Homo sapiens: one gene and its partners. The protein of the gene in region 4 interacts with the protein of the main gene of each other region in a pairwise test. Each region holds a gene or a part of one and is shown on either strand. Other genes may lie near its edges.

What was found. The genes of interacting proteins can lie anywhere in the genome.
Region 1: the proteins of LMTK2 (region 4) and PPP3CB interact in a two-hybrid assay, tested with the Homo sapiens proteins (one study listed by BioGRID and IntAct).
Region 2: the proteins of LMTK2 (region 4) and CDC14A interact in a two-hybrid assay, tested with the Homo sapiens proteins (one study listed by BioGRID and IntAct).
Region 3: the proteins of LMTK2 (region 4) and PPM1K interact in a two-hybrid assay, tested with the Homo sapiens proteins (one study listed by BioGRID and IntAct).

Annotation. Positions count from the first base shown.
Region 1 is NC_000010.11:73,471,389-73,476,181, reverse strand, and holds part of PPP3CB (serine/threonine-protein phosphatase 2B catalytic subunit beta isoform), read left to right. Parts: intron 1-1,151; coding exon 1,152-1,263; intron 1,264-4,568; coding exon 4,569-4,714; intron 4,715-4,793. UniProt on the Homo sapiens protein: Calcium-dependent, calmodulin-stimulated protein phosphatase which plays an essential role in the transduction of intracellular Ca(2+)-mediated signals.
Region 2 is NC_000001.11:100,515,849-100,521,413, forward strand, and holds the end of CDC14A (dual specificity protein phosphatase CDC14A), read left to right. Parts: intron 1-2,402; coding exon 2,403-2,432; 3' UTR 2,433-4,429; downstream 4,430-5,565. UniProt on the Homo sapiens protein: Dual-specificity phosphatase. Required for centrosome separation and productive cytokinesis during cell division. Dephosphorylates SIRT2 around early anaphase.
Region 3 is NC_000004.12:88,266,926-88,271,718, forward strand, and holds part of PPM1K (protein phosphatase Mn(2+)-dependent 1K), read right to left. Parts: intron 4,363-4,793; coding exon of another isoform or gene 4,170-4,362; intron 1,982-4,169; coding exon 1,816-1,981; intron 1,410-1,815; coding exon 1,265-1,409; intron 1-1,264. UniProt on the Homo sapiens protein: Serine/threonine-protein phosphatase component of macronutrients metabolism.
Region 4 is NC_000007.14:98,192,892-98,197,684, forward strand, and holds part of LMTK2 (serine/threonine-protein kinase LMTK2 precursor), read left to right. Parts: coding exon 1-1,681; intron 1,682-4,793. UniProt on the Homo sapiens protein: Phosphorylates PPP1C, phosphorylase b and CFTR.

The DNA.
Region 1 (4,793 bases), on a different chromosome or scaffold from region 4:
TTAATTTATTAACAATAAAGTTTTGTTGGGTGTGGTGGCTCACACCTGTAATCGCAGCACAGGTTGGCCAAGTCAGGCAGATTGCTTGAACCTGGGAGTTCGAGACCAGCCAGGGAAACATGGTGAAACCCTGTCTCCACAAAAAAAAAAAAAAAAACTTAGCTGGGCCTGGTGGCATGTGCCTGTAGTCCCAGCTGCTCAAGAGACTGAGGTAGGAGGATTTCTTGAGCCCAGAAGGTCGAGGCTGCAGTGAGCAGTAATTGTGCCATTGCACTCCAACCTGGGTGACAGTGAGACCTTGTCTCTAAAAATAAAAAAGTTTGTTTTTTCTTTTTGCATATGATTATATAAACCATGCTTATTTCCATATCAAATATTTCTTCCTTTTTTAAGCAAATAAGTAAAATGTGAGTCTCTTTCTTATGTTAAATCTATTTAGAGAATAGCATCTGCTATAATGTTTAATAATATTTTTATTTGAAAAATTACATTTGCATTGAATTAGTTCAGATAATAAGCACTTACCATATGTAAGGCAATATTCATAATCAATGAAACAAACATAAAACATGGACCTTCCCTTCATGGGCAGCATGGCATAATGCTTAAGATCAGAGGATCAGAATCCTATCTCCATCACTTAGAAGTTTTGTGGTTTTGGACAAGTTACTTGAGATCTTTGCTTCAGTTTCTCATTTGTAAAATAAAGATGATATTACATACTTCATAGTGTTGTTTGAGGAATAAATTAGGGGAATTATATAGTGCTTCACATATTGTAAGTACTTAATAAATGTTAGCTGCTGTTATTTTGACAGTATTATTTACTAATACGCATCTGTAGACCAGTGTGCTAATTGTTTTTATATTGGGCAGTCTGTAAATCCAAAGTAATTAAATAGATTGTTTGACTCATTCATTCAACAAATATTTATTGCTCTTCTCCTATTTGCTAGGTACTCTTCTGGGAGTGGAGAATCAAAAGTGAATAAGATGACAAAATCTGTGATTTTGTGGTGCTTATATTTTAGTAAGGGACAAAGAAAGATAATAGAGGATGGTAAGGGTAGTAGAGGAAAAGGAGCAAAGATCAAGCAGCTTCATTAAACAAAAGTACAAGATAAATTCACTAGAAAAATTTTCTTTTGCAGTGTGTCTTATATTTATGGGTTCTGAAGATTCTATACCCAAGCACATTATTTCTTCTGAGAGGCAACCATGAATGCAGACACCTTACTGAATATTTTACCTTTAAGCAGGAATGTGAGTACTGCCAGAAGAAATGTTTTCACTTCCTCAGTATTCTTTTGGACTTAAGTGGGTAGTAAGAGTTTTGAAGACTTTACAGTGCAACATGTAAGGACAGATTTCATGTCCACACATAAAGCTTTGAGGAAAGTTGTCGAGCACTCTCTGGTGTTTAATGGTATTAAGAAGTTTTTGGTGGGGCATGGTGGTTCACGCCTGTAATCCCAGCACTTTGGGAGGCCCAGGCAGGGGGATTGCCTGAGCTCAGGAGTTGGAGACCAGCCTGGCCAACATGGTGAAACCCCATCTCCACCAAAAATACAAAAAAAAAAAATTAGCTGGGTGTGGCGGCACACTCTTGTAGTCCCAGCTGCTCAGGAGGCTGAGGTGGGAGGATCGCTTGAGCCTGGGAATCGGAGGTCATAGTGAGCTGAGATCATGCCACTGCACGGACAATTGCCTGGGCAATAGAGTCAGACCCTGTCTCAAAAAAAAAAATTTTTTTTCATTTCAGAATTTCTTATTATGTTTAACTTTTACAAACATACTTAGAGTTTTATATATAAGTTTTAATGTTACAATTAATTTTTCTAAGCCAGGCACGGTAGCTCACGCTTGTAATCCCAGCACTTTGGGAGGCCGAGGCGGGTGGATCACCTGAGGTCAGGAGTTCAAGACCAGCCTGGCCAACACGGCAAAACCCCATCTCCTAAAAATACAAAAATTAGCCAGGCGTGGTGACATGTGCCTGTAATCCCAGGTACTCAGGAGGCTGAGGCAGGAGAATCACTTGAACCTGGGAGGCGGAGGTTGCAGTGAGCCGAGATCGCGCCATTGTACTCCAGCCTGGGCAACAAGAGCGAAACTCTGTCTCAGGAAAAAAAAATGTATATATTTTTTCTAACAGGAAAAAATAAAAACCAAAAGAAAAAAATGTTATTTTGCATTGGAGATTTTTGTCCTTCAATCTTGAGGCATTCCTGTGAGGAATCCTAACAAATTGTTTATCCTGTTACCATTGCAGATCATTTCAATCATGCTATTAATGATTGAAATTCTTCTTAAAATTTTTTTGTTTTTTTAAATATCATTGTTTTAAGACTAGTCAGGTACAGTTGGTGAAATTCTTAACCTGCAATGTTTATCCCTTTTCTCTCTCAAATTATTATAGCAATGGTAATCTAATACCTGTAAGTAACCATATGTTACAGAACAAGATTAGGCCTTTTTCACACCTCAAACCTTTGTGCTTTTTTATTATTTTTGTTATTTTTATTTTTTTTTTGAGACAGTCTCGCTCTGTCGCCCTGGCTGGAGTGCAGTGGTACAATCTCGGCTCACAGCAACCTCCTCCCGGGTTCAAGTATTCTCCTGCCTTAGCCTCCCAAGTAGCTGAAATTACAGGCATGCGCCACCACGTCCTGCTAATTTTTGTATTTTTGGTAGAGGCGGTGTTTCACCATGTTGGCCAGGCTGGTCTCTTAACTCCTGACCTCAAGTAATCCACCTGCCTCGTCCTCCCAAAGTGCTGGGATTACAGGTGTGAACCACCGCATCTGGCCTGCCTTTGTGCTTTTTAAGTTAATATTTATGACTGTATTAAGTAGAGTTAAATTCTAAAAGCAGAAATAATTTCAACGTTTTGAGACTCAAAACATGATCCAATAAAGGTCATACTAAGTAGAGACTTGCAGCAACAGGAGAAAAATACAGTGATGGGTAGTGGCAGAAGTGGCATACTCTTATAACTTCAAGGATCAGGCAGTTAACCTAAATGAGTAAGATAAGACCTGGAAAGTGCATGCTTGACCTAAAAGCAGTCAAATTAGAATTTTTATTAAACCACAGTGCTAGAAAACAGAGTCGTTAGCAGACTGCCAGTGTAGAATCTCTGGTTGCTGGATATATATATAGTTTTTTTAATATTTGAATATTACAGTATTAAAACAGGAAATAGGAACTAAGTTCTTTTTCTTTGCCTAGATAAATAACAAACCACCTACCAAAATCTCATCAAAACCAAAATAGGAATTTAAAGTTGTAAAGGAGCAAATGAAAGTGCATGATATCTCTCTAAAAGTAAATGATAGTTTGATTTGGTAGAGTTTTGTCTTTCTTGTGTTTCTATATTGGCTTCCTGCTTCACTGCCCATTTTAAAGTATTCATTGTAGGCAAGAGGAACCCCTCAGCTTTTCTGACATGAGCATGCTATTATCTTTTATTTTTCAGAAAAAATGGATGAACCTTGAATTTTGTTGTGATGATGTAGTCATCTTGCCTGTAATAAGAATAAAGTAGTCATTGACTCTTAGAATAAAATAAAGCAAGTATTAAAATGATTTTAACCTCAAGTACAGTTCTAATTTTGCCTTATTTGGCCGATAAAGGTGAAGGGTTGAGCTGTTTTTAAGAGATTTCTTTCTTTTTTTTTTTTTTTTGAGACAGAGTCTTGCTCTGTCGCCCAGGCTGGAGTGCAAGTGGCACGATCTCGGCCCACTGCAGCCTCCACCTCCTGGGTTCAAGTGATTCTTGTTCCTCACCCATTGAGTCTCTGGGATTACAGGTGCACACCAGCATGCCTGGCTAATTTTTGTATTTTTAGTAGAGACAGTGTTCTGCCATGTTGGCCAGACTGGTCTCAAACTCCTGGCCTCAAGCGATCTGCCTGCTTTGGCCTGTCAAAGTGCTGGGATTACAGGCGTGAGCCACCGTGCCTGGCCTGTTTTTAGAGATTTGACTGACTTATTTTTAACAATACGTGATGACTTTTCTGTCATCCAAAATAATTTTAGAGAGCAAATATTTTGCTTCATAAGACATAACATCATCGAGAATAATTTTAGAGAGAGCAAATATTTTGTCTTCATAAGACAGATAACTTTGCATATTTTTGTTGATTCTTATAGGGGAAGATGCTTTCCTTAAAAAAATTGTGTGCAGTAAGATTTATTCTCTGTGGTATTTACTTCTGTGACTTTTGACACTGCATAGAGTTGCCCACTACCACTATCATGATACAGAAAAGTTTTATCATGCCATAAGTTCTCTCTTGCTACCTTTTTATAGTCACCCCTTCACTCACTCTGAAGCCCTGGCCACCACTTTGCTGTTTACTGTCTATAATTTTCTTGCCATCTGTCTGTCTGTCTGTCTGGGCTATTACTACAGTTGAAACTGTAACTATCTCAATTTCATTATAAATAGCTATAAGATATAAAGGAGGGGAGAGAACAAGAAATAAAAATCTAATATATATGTTTTTAAAATGGTCACACCACCACCAGTAATGTAATTTTCAATTAGTTTTTTGTTTTTCTAGGTAAAATTAAGTATTCGGAAAGAGTCTATGAAGCTTGTATGGAAGCTTTTGATAGTTTGCCTCTTGCTGCACTTTTAAACCAACAGTTTCTTTGTGTTCATGGTGGACTTTCACCAGAAATACACACACTGGATGATATTAGGAGAGTAAGTATATATTTTACTTCCGAGATTGATTTCTATTTATAGTACATTGTTGAGTAGAGCAGAAGTTTCAAACTTCACT
Region 2 (5,565 bases), on a different chromosome or scaffold from region 4:
GGACTTTGGTATTGTATTTTTATCCTCTAGTGCTTAATAGATACAACTTATGTTCAGTAATTATTTGTTGAATGAATTGAACTGGTGGGACAGAAGGTCAATTCGTTGGCCAAATGGTGTCATCATTTGTTTGCAGAGGCCTGCAGGGCCAGTTAGGCAACATAAGAGAGCAAACTAGGGGGTTGGAAAAGGAAATAGTGGGGCTTGTGGTGAGCTGTATCTGAGCCTAGATTAAACACCAGCCAGAGTTTTTGAGCTCTGTGGAAGTAAAGGCTTTGGATAGAAGACTAATGAATATATTCTCCATATGAATAATAGAAATCTTTAAAATGTTCTAGACTATTTCTGTTTTCCAGTTCACTGGGTACTGTGATTCACTAAATAAATATGTAAATAAATGAATATATATATGTGTGTGTTTATATATATAAATATATGCACACACACATATTTGCCCCTCTATATTGATGTACATATGAAATACTTTACCCTATAAAAAAGTTGGTTTAACAAAGGTCGCTTGTCTAATGTTTATTTGCTACATCTCTGTTTATTGATAATTGATGGAGCTTGCAAAAACAACTTTGTTCTAAGTTATATGCAGTTTGAAGAATTTCTGATTTCTGTTAGTGATAACATGCACAACTTTACTAATCGGAACAAAAGTAAAAGTTAAATATTCTCAAGAAAGCACTAGCTGAGCTACACACACACACATACACGCACAACATACCTTTGTGGCATTCTTATAGCTGGGGGACTTAACTGGCTCTGCCCTCTGACTGCTTGCCAGACTTAGAAGAAACCGAGAAAAAGCAGGTAGAAAAATGTTTATGCTCTAATTGCGAGTGTGGTAGCTGGCGTCCCTCAAGTGGAATGTATATGGGCTTCAAGGCTTTTGACCAACTTCACTGGACTTTCTTAGGGTCTTACCTCTTTTATTCGCACTGTGGGTTCAGGTATATTTATAGTATAGTGCTCTGATTCTTGATCATCTCACACCTATTTTGAAGTATTAGCATGAACCACATACAAGAAAGTCAATAGCCAAACCTTTTCCATTCTTCCTACAGCTCTTGAAACTGGCAGCCTTGAGAACCACCCATTTCCCTTACTACCTCTCACCTAAGCCTTTCCTGGTGCACGATGTTAACTTTACACTATGTATATTACTATTTAATGTCGACACCGCTGTCTTTTCATTTCACATCTGTTATGACATTGTGGCTTTCGCCCTTTGCGGTCAGGGACCATAACTCTTTGACATACTGTGTTAACAGGGACTTACTCAGGAACAGCCATTTGGCTGTTCATGGGGTGTAAAATTCACTGCAGTTTTGAAGCTGAGAAAAGATAGCTTGAATCCTTTTGTAAGTTCTTTGGAAAATGGACAGATTCTTTTTTACTGATAACCTATATCATCACCAAAATGGACCTGTCTTATAATTGACTAGACCTGTTAATGAAATGTTACAGACTAATTTGAGAAATAATTATTGGGTGGGAGAAAAGGGCATTTACTAGAAAATCAAGTAAACTTTGTTATCCTCAGGTATTTAATTGGAAGAATTGAGCAAAAAATTTGTTAATGTTTAGATTGATTTATGTTCCTTTTTCTAATCACTGTTTCCTGCTAAAAAAAATAACTGTTTGGCAAACTTTCTGTAACTCTCTATCTTTTCCTGGTTTATGTCTGTTGTCCCAGGCATTCTGATTACATATCCCAATCACAATCCTTTTATATGTTAGTATCTAATGTGATGTGGAAGAATTTGTATGGTTTACTTGAAAATTGCCTATTGTTTATTAAATTCCGACAGCAAGACTCTTCTGCATAAATGTTTTTGGGTCTTAAGATCAGATTTCAAGCTGGTAGTACTTCATTTCCCCTTAAGGGAAAGGATGTGTAAGATATTTATAAATTCAAGCATGCTTAAGGAATTTATTTAAATGGCTGCTAATTCTACTGCATTAGAAGCATGCCATTGATATGTACTGAATTAAATTTAAGGATATATCATCTCAAAGTATATTCTAGTAATCTTTAATTAGTTAAAAGTATCTTTTAATATTGTTAAGTAAAACTCATTAATTGTAGAAATGCTTAGAGATGAGTTTAGGCTACCTACCGATTTTTAAATTAAAACTTAATTTTTTAATCACTATAAATAAATTAGTAAACCTTTTAAAATATAAAGTTTTCTTACAATCACTTTGCGTAATTGAATATCTCATTCTTACCTAGCTAATGCTTTGTGTCTCCTGTCTTTTTGTTTCTGTTTTGGCTTAGTTTATTTCATTGATCTCTAAGCTGTCTTGTGTGGAAGGGAGAAGCTGCATGACTTGCTAGAAGTTTTACATGTGATGGAATTTAACCTCAGTTTATGTCTCTCCCTGCACAGTCCCTTCAGTCTGAATATGTTCATTACTAAGGCCTTGCCACTCCAGTGAAAGCTGTTCTTCTCTTAGACACAATTTCTTCATCTGGACGAGCAGTGGAGAGGGAAAGCAACTTCTTGCTGGAAGAATATCTCTGCCTTCTTACCTTAAATTAAAAAGAGCACTAAGATAACACCTTCAAGAGACTTGAAAACAGAAAACTGGTTAATGACTACTATAAATGCACTGAAACTATGTTTATGGAGATTTCCATACTTTTAAAGACAGTTTTAATGTTGAATTTGGTATTTTGAAGGGTTATTTTTAATGTATTTTGGTAATACATTTATTATTATATTTACATGTACAGTGTTACATTATATATGTATTGTGAACTTTAAAAGACTATTTTGATAAATTTATAAATATATAAAATTATGTAAAAACTACACTATATTTTGATTTAGATTTTCCTGCTGTTTGCTACCAAAAATTTGTATTTTAAATCTGTTTAGTTTTAGTATGGTTTTGTCTCTAATGAATAAATAATTCCTTCTTATTAAGAAGAAGTAAGGGAGAAAGTTTTTAGAAAGTGATTTTTATGCTCGCACTATAAATATGGCAGGTCAGTTCATTCTTTTGGGAAGTCAGTTTAGTTACACTGAGTTTATCCAAGTTTATCTCTACCAAGAGTATAATGGCATGGGATGGCTTATTTAGGACAATTCCCTTTCCTATTGTTTTTGTTGCTGAGCCAATTTGAGTTAGTTTTGCATCCTGGGGGGCTTTAAAATACAGCATGCAGTGAAAGATCAGAATTCACTGAATATTTCTTCTGAGAGCATGGTTTCATGGTTTTTCTCTATGAAATGACTCAATATTCCAAATGTTTTTTTTTCCTTCCTCCTTTCAAAAGAGTTCTTAACCCAATTAGGATATCCTGCTTTGGGTATGAGGTTGTTGTTGCCTGTAATCACACATGGTTTGACATCAGTTTTAAATCAATGGAGAGAAAAAACTGAAAAAGATGCTGCTAAGTAGTTCTCTGTATTAAAGGAGATATTTTTAAAACAGGGTACAACCCCCTGCTGCACACGCTAGCATATCTGGAACCTACTATGAAAATGAAAGGACCCTTATAGGTACTCACAGCCCTTTCATGTAAGTATGATCTGATATTTAGGTCTTCAGAAGCCTGTAGGTTTCATTTCTATGAGGAATCGAGGAGCGTTACATCCTGATATCCTTCCAGGCTGCTTAAGAATGGACTGCTTCGACACTGAAAGTGCTAGTTAAATGGATTCATATGAAGTGCTTTACTCCCAACCATTGAGTTATTTATAATGTATTTATTAGGGGAGGGTACCTTGAGTCTATTATATATGCTTCATCAAAACATCTTGTTCATGTTTTATGTTTTTAAAAAAGGCATTTGAATGAATGTTTGACTCAGGTTTGTTAAATTAACCTTCAGTAACTGCAGTACCAAAAATTACACTCAACTGATGAAAAAAACGAATTGTATGATTTAGGAATCAAAAACTAAAATAAGTGGAATTATGTATCTTTTCTAAAGTTAAAAAAGTAAAATATTTTATTATGAGTTATTATAAAAATTGGTTAATTGTATAGGAAGATGACAGTATTTTTTTCAAGTTATCATAAAAAGTAATTCAGATGACATTTGAGAAGTAGGGGAAAGGGAATCATGTTGACAGTTTTAGTTCTGTGAACACTAATTTGTGTGAAGCTATTAAAATGATTGTAAAGTTGACTACTGTAAATTTCCCATAATTATGTGTGTATATGTGTCATATGTATGTACATGTATATGTCTAAAAATTACTTTACACATGTGCCTACATAGACACACCAAGAAGTGGATGTATATAATATAGAAAGTATATAGCAAAGTAATTTTACTCTGATAATAAAAATTGTTTGACATGTATTTTGTTATGAATAGTTTATCTTCCAAAAGATATTTTGCTCTATTTTAAAGTGTAGAAGAATACACTGCTAATAAATAATAAAAGTTTTATTCAATTTACTTATTTTTTGGTGTTTATAATTTGAATTTTTGAGTTATCAATGTACTGAAGTCTCTTTATAATTTTATTTTTGGTTCAGTGTGGTCAGTGCCTTGAGTGTTTCAAGATCTCTATTCTGGATTTTAGTTTAGCTTTTATTGACTTTCTAGGTTGTGGCCATTGCCTGAAATACATGACAGTGAGCTCACAGAAACCTTATACTTTGAATTTCACAAAAATCATATAATGTTAGGTTCTTGCTTGCTTTCCCTTTATTTTTTTTACTGTCAATAAAATACTGATCCTGATCAGTGTTTTGGGTCCTGCTTAGTCATTTATGACTACTGATGACTATTGTGTGATTGATCACCAGTTCCTTTTGAAAAAGAATGCCATTTTTCCTAAATGAGAAATTATAGAAATCAGTTAGAAGAAACCTCACACCTGTTGGATCTATGCCCTGAAAAGTCAGTTTGGGAGGAAGAAGCTACACTATTTATTGGAGATATTTTATATAGTAAACTGGATCTCTTTGGGTTATGATGATTCTGAGGTTTTTTTTTCCTTAAATTTTTTTTTTTTTTTTTTTTAGAATGCAAAGGAAAGTTTGTGGGTGAGAAGGTAGTTTTACATTTGGAATTGGGATCTGCAAATAGCTGTCCTAACAACACTGCATGAAACAATTGGGGTACCAAGGTTTTCATAGGACCACATCTTAAAGAAGGAGATTTCTTATGAATTAATGAACCTGTTTCACAGGGCAGAAGGAAATCTTTTTTTGTACAGATTGGGTTTTTATGAAAAAGAAAGTAAAAAAAACAAATCAATTAGCTGGTTTCAGCAGATTTCTCACCTATTGAGTTTACCTGTTTCTTTTTTATCCTTAGATGTAAAATGATTTATAAATCTCAAAACACACCTGGGAAAACTATCTATGTGATTCAAATATAGCAGGAACATGAATTTACCAACTATACACAAATGTATTTTGAAAATTGTTTTTACTTCTATGCTTTCTTCAGTGACATGTTAAACCATTAATATGTTGAGTCTAATTAAACCAGTTGTTAGTATATAAGCTGAACAGGACTCCGTGGGCTTCATGTCATATAAGAAGTCTGTACTCGTTCCAAAAGTCATAAGGCAGAGTCCCCTT
Region 3 (4,793 bases), on a different chromosome or scaffold from region 4:
TGCTGGTTGACTGGGTGCAGGTGCTGCTGATTGGGTGCAGGTGATGCTGATTGGATGCAGGTGATGCTGATTGGGTGCAGGTGATGCTGGTTGATTGGGTGCAGGTGATGCTGGCTGACTGGATGCAGGTGATGCTGATTGGGTGCAGGTGATGCTGATTGGATGCAGGTGATGCTGATTGGGTGCAGGTGATGCTGGCTGATTGGGTGCGGGTGATGCTGGCTGATTGGGTGCAGATGATGCTGGCTGATTGGGTGCAAGTGATGCTGATTGATTGGGTGCAGGTGATGCTGGCTGATTGGGTGCAGATGATGCTGGCTGATTGGGTGTGGGTGATGCTGGCTGATTGGGTGCAGGTGATGCTGGCTGACTGGGTGCAGGTGATGCTGATTGCTTGGGTGCAGGTGATGCTGGCTGATTGGATGCAGGTGATGCTGATTGTGTGCAGGTGATGCTGGATGACTGGGTGCAGGTGATGCTGCATGATTGAGTGCAGGTGATGCTGGCTGATTGGGTGCAGGTGAGGAAGAACAGCAGGACCATTTCACCAGGAGAATTCCATAGCTGGGGTGAAACAAAAACCTAACACTTCAAACTGAGGGAAGCCAAAATATTTCTCCCCGAAATATTGAGGATTGCTAAAGTCAAGTCACTGAAAAGGCAGGGGTACACTTCCTCAGCCTCTACTTGCCTGGTGGCAGGACATCAGTCCTTCTTTACTGGAGACAGCACTTGTTTATTGGCCCAGAGAAGGAACCAGCAGGCACCAGAGAAATCTGGGAACAGGTTTTACTATCTCTCCACATTTTCCTGACTTTTAAAAGACTGAAACTGTTCTCTTCTTTATCTTGTCACTATGCAGGATCTATGGCTATTTAAATACAATTTAAGCAAAGCCCCTAAGCCACTGCCTTGGAAGAGAAATACTTTTAACTGAGGCCTTTCCCGTACAATGGGTTCAGCACGTGCAAATGTCTGCTTGTTTGTTTGTTGTTGTTGTAGTTAATCTGACTTTTATTTTCAAGAAAGTGTCTCAACTAAGAACCTAAAAAGGGGGAAAAAGAGAATTGTTTTGTCCTCTACAATAAATTAGGCCAGAATAGTAGCATCTTATTTTACCTGAAAAGTTTTTTTATCCTTCCATAAATTACTCCCTTTTAAAAATCATTTTGGCTTCAGTTAAGGCTTCCAAGAAAGGTGCAGCAGAGACAATCCTACATTCACTCTCCGCAGGTTTATCAAGTGTTTGCAGGTCCTTTCTTACCTTAATCCTCTTAGTTTCAGGTTCTGCTATGACACCACTGGTCTTAAGGTCCAAATCTCCAATACTTCTTGTCATTGCAAGCCTGCCATTTACGTGAGGCTGCCCCAAACTATTCCAAGCTACAAAACCACCACATTTCTTGATCCTGTTAAAAGTTAAATGACAATGGTGTGATATGTAGAAAACCCTTTGGGAGGCCAAGGAGGGCAGATCACGAGGTCAGGAGATCGAGACCATCCTGGCTAACACGGTGAAACCCCGTCTCTACTAAAAAACAAAAAATTAGCCGAGCGTGTTGGCAGGCGCCTGTAGTCCCAGCTACTCAGGAGGCTGAAGCAGGAGAATGGTGTGAACCCGGGAGGTGGAGCTTGCAGTGAGCCAAGATTGCGCCACTGCACTCCAGCCTGGGCGACAGAGTGAGACTCTGTCTCAAAAAAACAAAAAGAAAACCAAGTCACTGTTAAACTTAACCATGACATCAGTTTAAAAACTATTATGAACTAAAAACATCATCCACATAGAATGATATGATGGATCAGTGGTGGTAGTACCTTTCTTTTTCATCTTTTCTTTCTGGAGTATGGTCAATGGTCAGCTTCATGGGTTTTCCTTTTCTACACAAAATAGCCCGGCTGTCCCCAACACTGGCTACAACCAGTTCAATACCATCTCGCAATAGGGCTACTGTTGCAGTAGTCCCAGAGGTCAGAAGAGTTGCTACAAGTATTATGAAAAAAAGAGTACAAGTTAGTGACAGTCAAATGATTGGATATGGAATTTTTATTACAAAATAAAACACAAGCATGATAAACTAATGCTGGAATATATCATTCTAATTTAACTAGAGCTAAGCAAATAAAATGCAAATGAACTATGTAAGTAACAGCATGCAGAGAAACAAGTATTTAATTCAGTAACAAGTCTCCATGCAAACGGAAAGGTTGCTAACCTTATTTGGCAAACACTGCATCACTATCTACAAATGGCCTCTATTCATATCAAGTAGAGCTGACTTGAACTTATAACAACACCTTCATGGATATCTGGTGTCCAGACTGAAAGTATTAAAATTTAATTAGGTTGGCTATGATGGTGGGATGACTTAGGTCTACTTGAGCCCATGGAGGCAAGCTGACTTTTCTATAGTCTATGGATTTAGAAGGTTTTCTCTTCCATTTTTCACTCCTATGCTGTGAACATATTATCAGTTAGTAGGCTAAGTGAGACATGCCAAGGGTATACCATTTGCATATTCTACCCCTGTATGCTTCTAAAACTGTTTTAATTTTATAAATGTTCACCAAAAAAATCCTAAAATGGTTACAGGCTCACATTCTTTTCTGTTTATCTTTGTCCTCCCTAGACGTGAAACAAAGTTACAACCATCATTACAGGAGCAGAAAATCTGGGGGAGGGGAGGTGGAGAATGAAGTTCATTCTAGCTTCTCATAAACTTGGTGTAGTTAACACTCCTAACTCCAGAAGGTTGTAATACAAAGAGGTAGTCTTCAAACGCAGGGCAGTACTGCCAGCTGCAACTCCTGGGGTCCTGTTTGGGCCCAGAGCATCCCACAAATATGAATTTTCTCTAATAACAAATAAAATTCATTGTTACTGGGCTTGAGGTCACCGTTTCCTCCATCCAACTCAGACTGCATTTCTGCATCTTCCTTTGATTTCCTCTAACAGTGTCTGCCCTAAGTTCTTTACCACTTGTTAAAAATTGTTAATTTGCATTGAGCCTTGTCAAAAGTGAGAATATTGTGAAATTATGGGCTAAAAAATAAAACAAAGTGGAAGAAATCGGAAAAGATAACTTATTTAAAGCAGGTATTGTCTTTAGTAACACTGTTAACTCTTTAAAACATTCCAAAGATGACTTCGATTTTAAAGGTACATTTAGGAAAAACGAAGTGCTACTAATTTGACTGATTAAGACTCAATCTTTCCAAGCTTTTTTTTTCTCCCCAAAAAGATAATTTTGAAAACTTCATCAGTAATGCATTGGAAGGAGATATATACATAAATAGATTTTTCCAATCAGTATATTAAAATGCCTGCTTTAATCAGAAAAGTAAGATGGAAAAGCATGAACAAACTCTACTTAATCTTTTATAGTCATGCTGAACTTTCTTGAGAAATAACATTTATAGTTGCACTATCTTTCCATTTTTCTCTTGATTTTGGAACTGTCGTGCCAATGTAATATTTCTGCAATGTTGAAAGATACATTTGTCCACCATATAACATAAATGTTTTAGCATAAGTATCAGTGATATTTATATTACAAATGTTAACTCGTAACTTTAAATTACCCAAACGACTATGAAACAGTGGAATCTTTACAGTTTGACTAACTATGATATTTCAAACGATTTAAAGAGCCAGATAAGGGAACACGGCATTTATTCAGATGCTACCTGTCCCGGGAATTTAATATTCCTTCCATTTGTTTAAACCATCTACAATAGTTTTCTTAAAAATGGTTTATTATTGGCCACAGTAAAAGAGTTAAAATTTCATAAGTAGAAGTTTAGTTATTTAGGCTTGTAATTTATGGCTCTGTCACCTAGGAATTTTAAGACTTTGAGTTTTTACCAACCCAACTTCACAGTTCCAAAATCCCAGGATTTATAGGAAAGGCTTCAAAACTAACTGTCAATTCTGATTTGCTAAGCATTTAAGAATGTAAATATTAAATCAGCATTCATTTTCATTTAACATTTAACATGGAAGTAAAAATTCTCACTTTTTGCCTAACAACAAAACTAGAAAACTAAGACATCTTTCAATAAGTTCTTAACACTCACTGGACAATTTCTACTGCAAGTCATCTCAACTAATGGGACAAAGAGATGTGGGAACCTTCCCGTAGTCCAGGATAGGAACCGCTGGACTCCTTCACCTGGGACAAAATTAAGCAGATCTCTCTTTCCACTGAAGCCCCGCATATAGTGTCCACGGGCTCCAGGTCTAGAGCTGCTGACCAGGCACAGTTCTCTGCCACAAATAACACGCACAGAGGCAAATACGAATTTCACCCAGGAATTGTGCTCAAACATTACAAACCTGCAACACAGGGGAGAGCAGAGAAAGAGCTGCAAAATAAGGGAAGGGTTTTTTATTTTGGTGAAAATTTAACTAGCAAATTATATAATATTCCAGGAGATGCCAAATCAATTATTCCAAAACTCAGTTTGTTCCAGTTGATGGTATTTTGTAGTTGAGCCTATTTTTTCATCACAGGGTAACACTTCTTTCTTAATTTTGTGGTTTCTAAGGTTGAAAAAACTATATAAAAAAGTATCTGTACCAAGACACATAAATGGTGACACAGACCTACATTTAACACACTCACAAAAACACTCACGCATATACACATTCACTGAAATAATTGGTCTTAAACACAGTAAATCACTACCTTTACTGAGTTACAAAAAATGCACTGTAAATTTGTTTGGTAGCAATATCAGAATTGTCTCAAGAATAGAAAGGTAAATCTACAGTTACAGCATGGAAGAATTTGTAT
Region 4 (4,793 bases):
TTCCCCGGAAGTGCAGGTACCTCCTACCTCCTTCGAAACAGAAGAAACGCCCCGTCGGGTACCCCCAGACTCACTCCCAACACAGGGAGAAACCCAGCCCACGTGTTTAGATGTTATTGTCCCGGAGGACTGTCTCCACCAGGACATCAGTCCAGACGCTGTGACTGTCCCGGTTGAAATTCTCTCAACTGATGCCAGAACCCACAGCCTGGATAACAGGTCCCAGGACTCTCCTGGCGAGAGTGAGGAGACCCTGCGACTCACCGAAAGTGACTCTGTTCTTGCTGATGACATCCTTGCCAGCAGGGTGAGTGTAGGGAGTAGTCTCCCGGAACTGGGACAGGAATTGCACAATAAACCATTTTCGGAAGACCATCACAGTCATCGCCGGCTAGAGAAAAACTTAGAGGCTGTGGAGACTTTAAATCAGCTCAATTCTAAAGACGCAGCAAAAGAAGCAGGCTTGGTGTCTGCCCTCTCCTCGGACTCAACCAGTCAGGACAGCCTCCTGGAGGACAGCTTGTCAGCACCCTTCCCAGCCTCTGAGCCGTCCCTGGAAACCCCGGACTCTCTGGAGTCAGTGGATGTCCACGAAGCGCTACTGGACTCTTTAGGATCTCACACTCCCCAGAAACTAGTGCCCCCCGATAAGCCGGCAGACAGTGGCTACGAAACAGAGAACTTGGAGTCTCCCGAGTGGACCTTGCATCCCGCTCCCGAGGGCACCGCAGACTCAGAACCAGCCACCACGGGCGATGGCGGCCACAGCGGTCTGCCTCCCAACCCGGTCATTGTCATCTCAGATGCCGGCGATGGTCACAGAGGCACAGAAGTGACCCCTGAGACGTTCACAGCTGGCTCCCAGGGTTCATACCGAGACTCTGCGTACTTCTCAGACAATGACTCTGAGCCCGAGAAAAGGTCTGAGGAGGTCCCGGGAACCTCCCCATCCGCCTTGGTGTTGGTACAGGAGCAGCCCCTACCCGAGCCAGTCCTCCCCGAGCAAAGTCCTGCTGCCCAGGATAGCTGCCTGGAAGCCAGAAAGAGCCAGCCAGATGAAAGTTGTCTGTCTGCTTTGCACAACTCCAGTGACCTGGAATTAAGAGCCACGCCGGAGCCAGCACAGACTGGTGTTCCCCAGCAGGTGCATCCCACGGAAGACGAGGCCAGCAGTCCCTGGAGTGTGCTGAATGCAGAACTTAGCAGCGGCGATGACTTCGAGACACAGGACGATCGCCCCTGCACCCTCGCTTCCACGGGGACCAACACGAACGAACTCCTTGCCTACACCAATTCTGCGCTGGACAAGTCCCTGTCCAGCCACTCCGAGGGCCCGAAGTTGAAGGAGCCGGACATCGAAGGGAAGTACCTGGGGAAACTCGGGGTGTCAGGGATGCTCGACCTCTCAGAGGACGGGATGGATGCAGACGAGGAGGACGAAAACAGCGACGACTCGGACGAGGACCTGCGGGCCTTCAACCTGCATAGCCTCAGCTCCGAGTCGGAGGACGAGACCGAGCACCCCGTGCCCATCATCCTCAGCAACGAGGACGGAAGGCACCTGCGGAGTCTGTTGAAGCCCACAGCGGCCAATGCCCCCGACCCACTGCCCGAGGACTGGAAGAAGGAAAAGAAGGCAGTCACGTTTTTCGATGATGTCACAGTCTACCTGTTTGACCAGGTATCTGTTCCCTCTAAATCATTTTCTATACACATCCATATAAGGATTCCAAAATGTGCTAGGAAATTGAGTGTGGTCTGTTTTCTAGTTGCCATTTTGAGGCAGCAGATTGTGATTACTCACAAAAAGTAATTTGGGGTTGGTTAGAGTTCTAAGAATATGCAGAAATGTCATTTGCTCAGGGAGTTCGTATTAAATTAAGAGAAAGAGACCCGAATGCTCTTCCTGGGTCTTCTAATGGAGTCTTCCTGAATTAGTCACCCTTTACACACCAAATTTTTACTGTTTTACTTTTTTATTTTTCTTTTGAGACAGCCTTGCTCTGTGGCCCAGGCTGGAATGCAGTGGTACAGTTGCAGCTCACTGCAGCCTTGAACTCCTGGGCTCAAGTGATCCTCCCACCTTCCATAATAGCTGGGCCCACAGGTTCATGCCACCATGGCTGGCTAAGGTTTTGGTGTTTTTTTTGTTTTGTTTTGTTTTTAATTTTTGTAGACACACGGTCTTGCTATGTTGCCTAGGCTGCTCTCAAACTCCTGGGCTCAAGCCATCCTCCCACCTCAGCCTCTCAAAGTTTTGGGATTACAGGCATGAGCCACTGCGCTTGGCCTCCAATTTTTAGAGCCTGACAATTGGCAGTAGGACCCACCACTTGGGTACAAGCCTGGAACCATGGCTGGCGTGCAGCCCTGGAGACAGCTCAGGAGAGGGGCCAACCAGAAGCCCTGCGGTGGGTGTCTGGAGGGTGTGACACACAGCAGGAGCGTCTGTGGTCCTTCTGCTCTGTCCCCTGACCTGTCCTCTTTCCCTGCTTTGGAGCAGGCAGCTTAGTGTGCACTGCTGAGTGGGCATGGATTTAGGCTCCTTTAAAAATGTAACAGCGGATAATTCAAGCATGCTTTAAAAAAAAAAAAAAAGTTCTTTTCATACTAGTCTTTGTAGCCCTTGAATTTGCTGCTTGCATCAGCTGGATTGTTGGGAGAGCTCAGTGGTGGGACATGAAAATGGGGTCCCCTCACCTTCTAGAAGGCGCAGGAGTCCTCGCCGTCTCCTTCACATTGCTTGCCCTCCCTTTTGCTCCATTCTGGGAACCCAGACCTTGGTCTCAGCCCCTGCGTGGCACCATCCCTCATGGGTCCGTGGCTATGGCGGGTCCAAGCACTGTTCCACCTCCTCCCCCAGGAGCTGCGTCTGTTGAACGTCACTTTATGCCTTGTTCCTCTGTGTTCTGTTCACTTTGGTTTTTATGATGTTTCTTTAAAAATCGTTAAATCACCCGCATTTGAGCTATAGCATATATGGCGGGGAAGTGGATGTTTAAAAAATGAAAAGTAAGGCCAGGCGCGGTGGCTTATGCCTGTAATCCCAGCACTTTGGGAGGCCAAGGTGGGCGGATCACCTGACGTCGGGAATTCAAGACCAGCCTGGGCAACATGGCGAAACCCCATCTCTACTAAAAATATAAAAATTAGCCAGTCACGGTAGGCAAGACTGCAGGCCCAGCTACTTGGGAGGCTGAGGCATGAGAATTGCTTGAACCTGGGAGGCAGAGGTTGCAGTGAGCCAAGATTGCACCACTGCACTCCAGCCTGGGTGACAGAGTGAGACCTGTCTCAGAAAAAAAAAAAAAAAAGCAGCCTCCTGAGCTCAGCCTGACCTCTTGAACCTGATTCTGCGAGGGGCCAGGAGGCCGTCTTTCTCTTTTCATTCCCCAGGTGGTTCCTAGGCAGATCTCGAACTCAGGAGCCTCTGAGCTCAGGGAGCCTGAGAAAACACGCTGCCGTTTTCTAGTAAGAGTGGAAGGGAGAAGGGATCACCTGGCCCCTCGGGTTTGTGTTTTGTTTTCAATGCATCCACATAGCCCTTTCTCCACCGTCTCTGTGAACTTGGATTATCGCTGCATTTCTCCATGGATGGGGTAATGTATAGGTGGGACGGAACTGTCAACTGTGCTCGGTGAGCAGTGCGGTTAGGAGCTAGGGAGCACGCTGTCCCCACTTCCTGAAAGCCTGGGGGTAGCTGGAGTAGTGAGAGGGACGCAGTCCCAGTGGAAGCAGCCTGTGGAGAAAACTCCCTGGGGCCGCAGAGTATGGGCCCCTTGCACAAGTCTTTGTGGAGGATGTTATGTTTTTCTGACTTTAGAAGACAGAATTGCAAAAGATGAAGATCTGTGACAAGGGCACTCTAGTTATGGGATGGAAGGTACAGAGATCAAATACCAGACATGCTTAATGGACGCGAGGCTTTGACAAGGAAGTTAGTGTCAAGGAGAAAGTCGGAAGGTGGGTCAGGGCCAGAAGAAAATGAGGAAGATCTTTCTGATGATCTGAAATTCGTTTGCTTATGCGTCTCATGCAGCATGCCTTGAAGCGACAGCCACCAAGCGTTCAGGCCGAGGACTGAGGGTTTCCTCCCACTCCTGCTTTCTTTTTTAATGAGCTGGTTTTGAAGTTGTGTAGTTTTTAAGCAGTTGAAGTATCTTGGCTCCAAACTTTTAACTGAGTGTTCATGGGATTGGGCAGCAATTGTTTCTTGGTTATATTACTATTTGTCAGTTCAGCAAATACTTAACCAGCACTTACCGTGTAAAGTAGTAAAGGCTGGTGAACAGTCTGTGGGTGCCAGCACCTTTATTATACATTGAGTCTTGTTTTGCTTCCCCATGTGGGGGTGGTTGTCACCATCTTCATGGAGAGGACCCTGAGGCTCAGAGTAGGTAAACTTTGCACAGGGTCTGGCCCCAGTGAGTAGCAGTGCTAGGGCTTGACCCAAGTCTCCTGGACCGAGCACAGAACTTTTCACCACTGAGCCCTGCCACCTCTTGCATGCACCTTTACAATCTGCAGCCTGGCATCGCATTCGACTTTTAGCACTTGCGATGTCCTTCCTCAGTGCACAGTGTTCTTGAGACAAAAGTAGCGGGTAATGATGCTTACTTGCAATTAGTGCGACAGGGTTCCCTCCAGCCTGATCCGTCATACTGTAAACAAGCACTGAAGGCTGGGCACAGTAGCTCATTCCCATAATCCTAACATTTTGGAAAGCTGAGGCAGGAGGATCGCTTAAGGCCAGGAGGTGAGACTGGTCTAGGCAGCATAATAAGAACCGATTT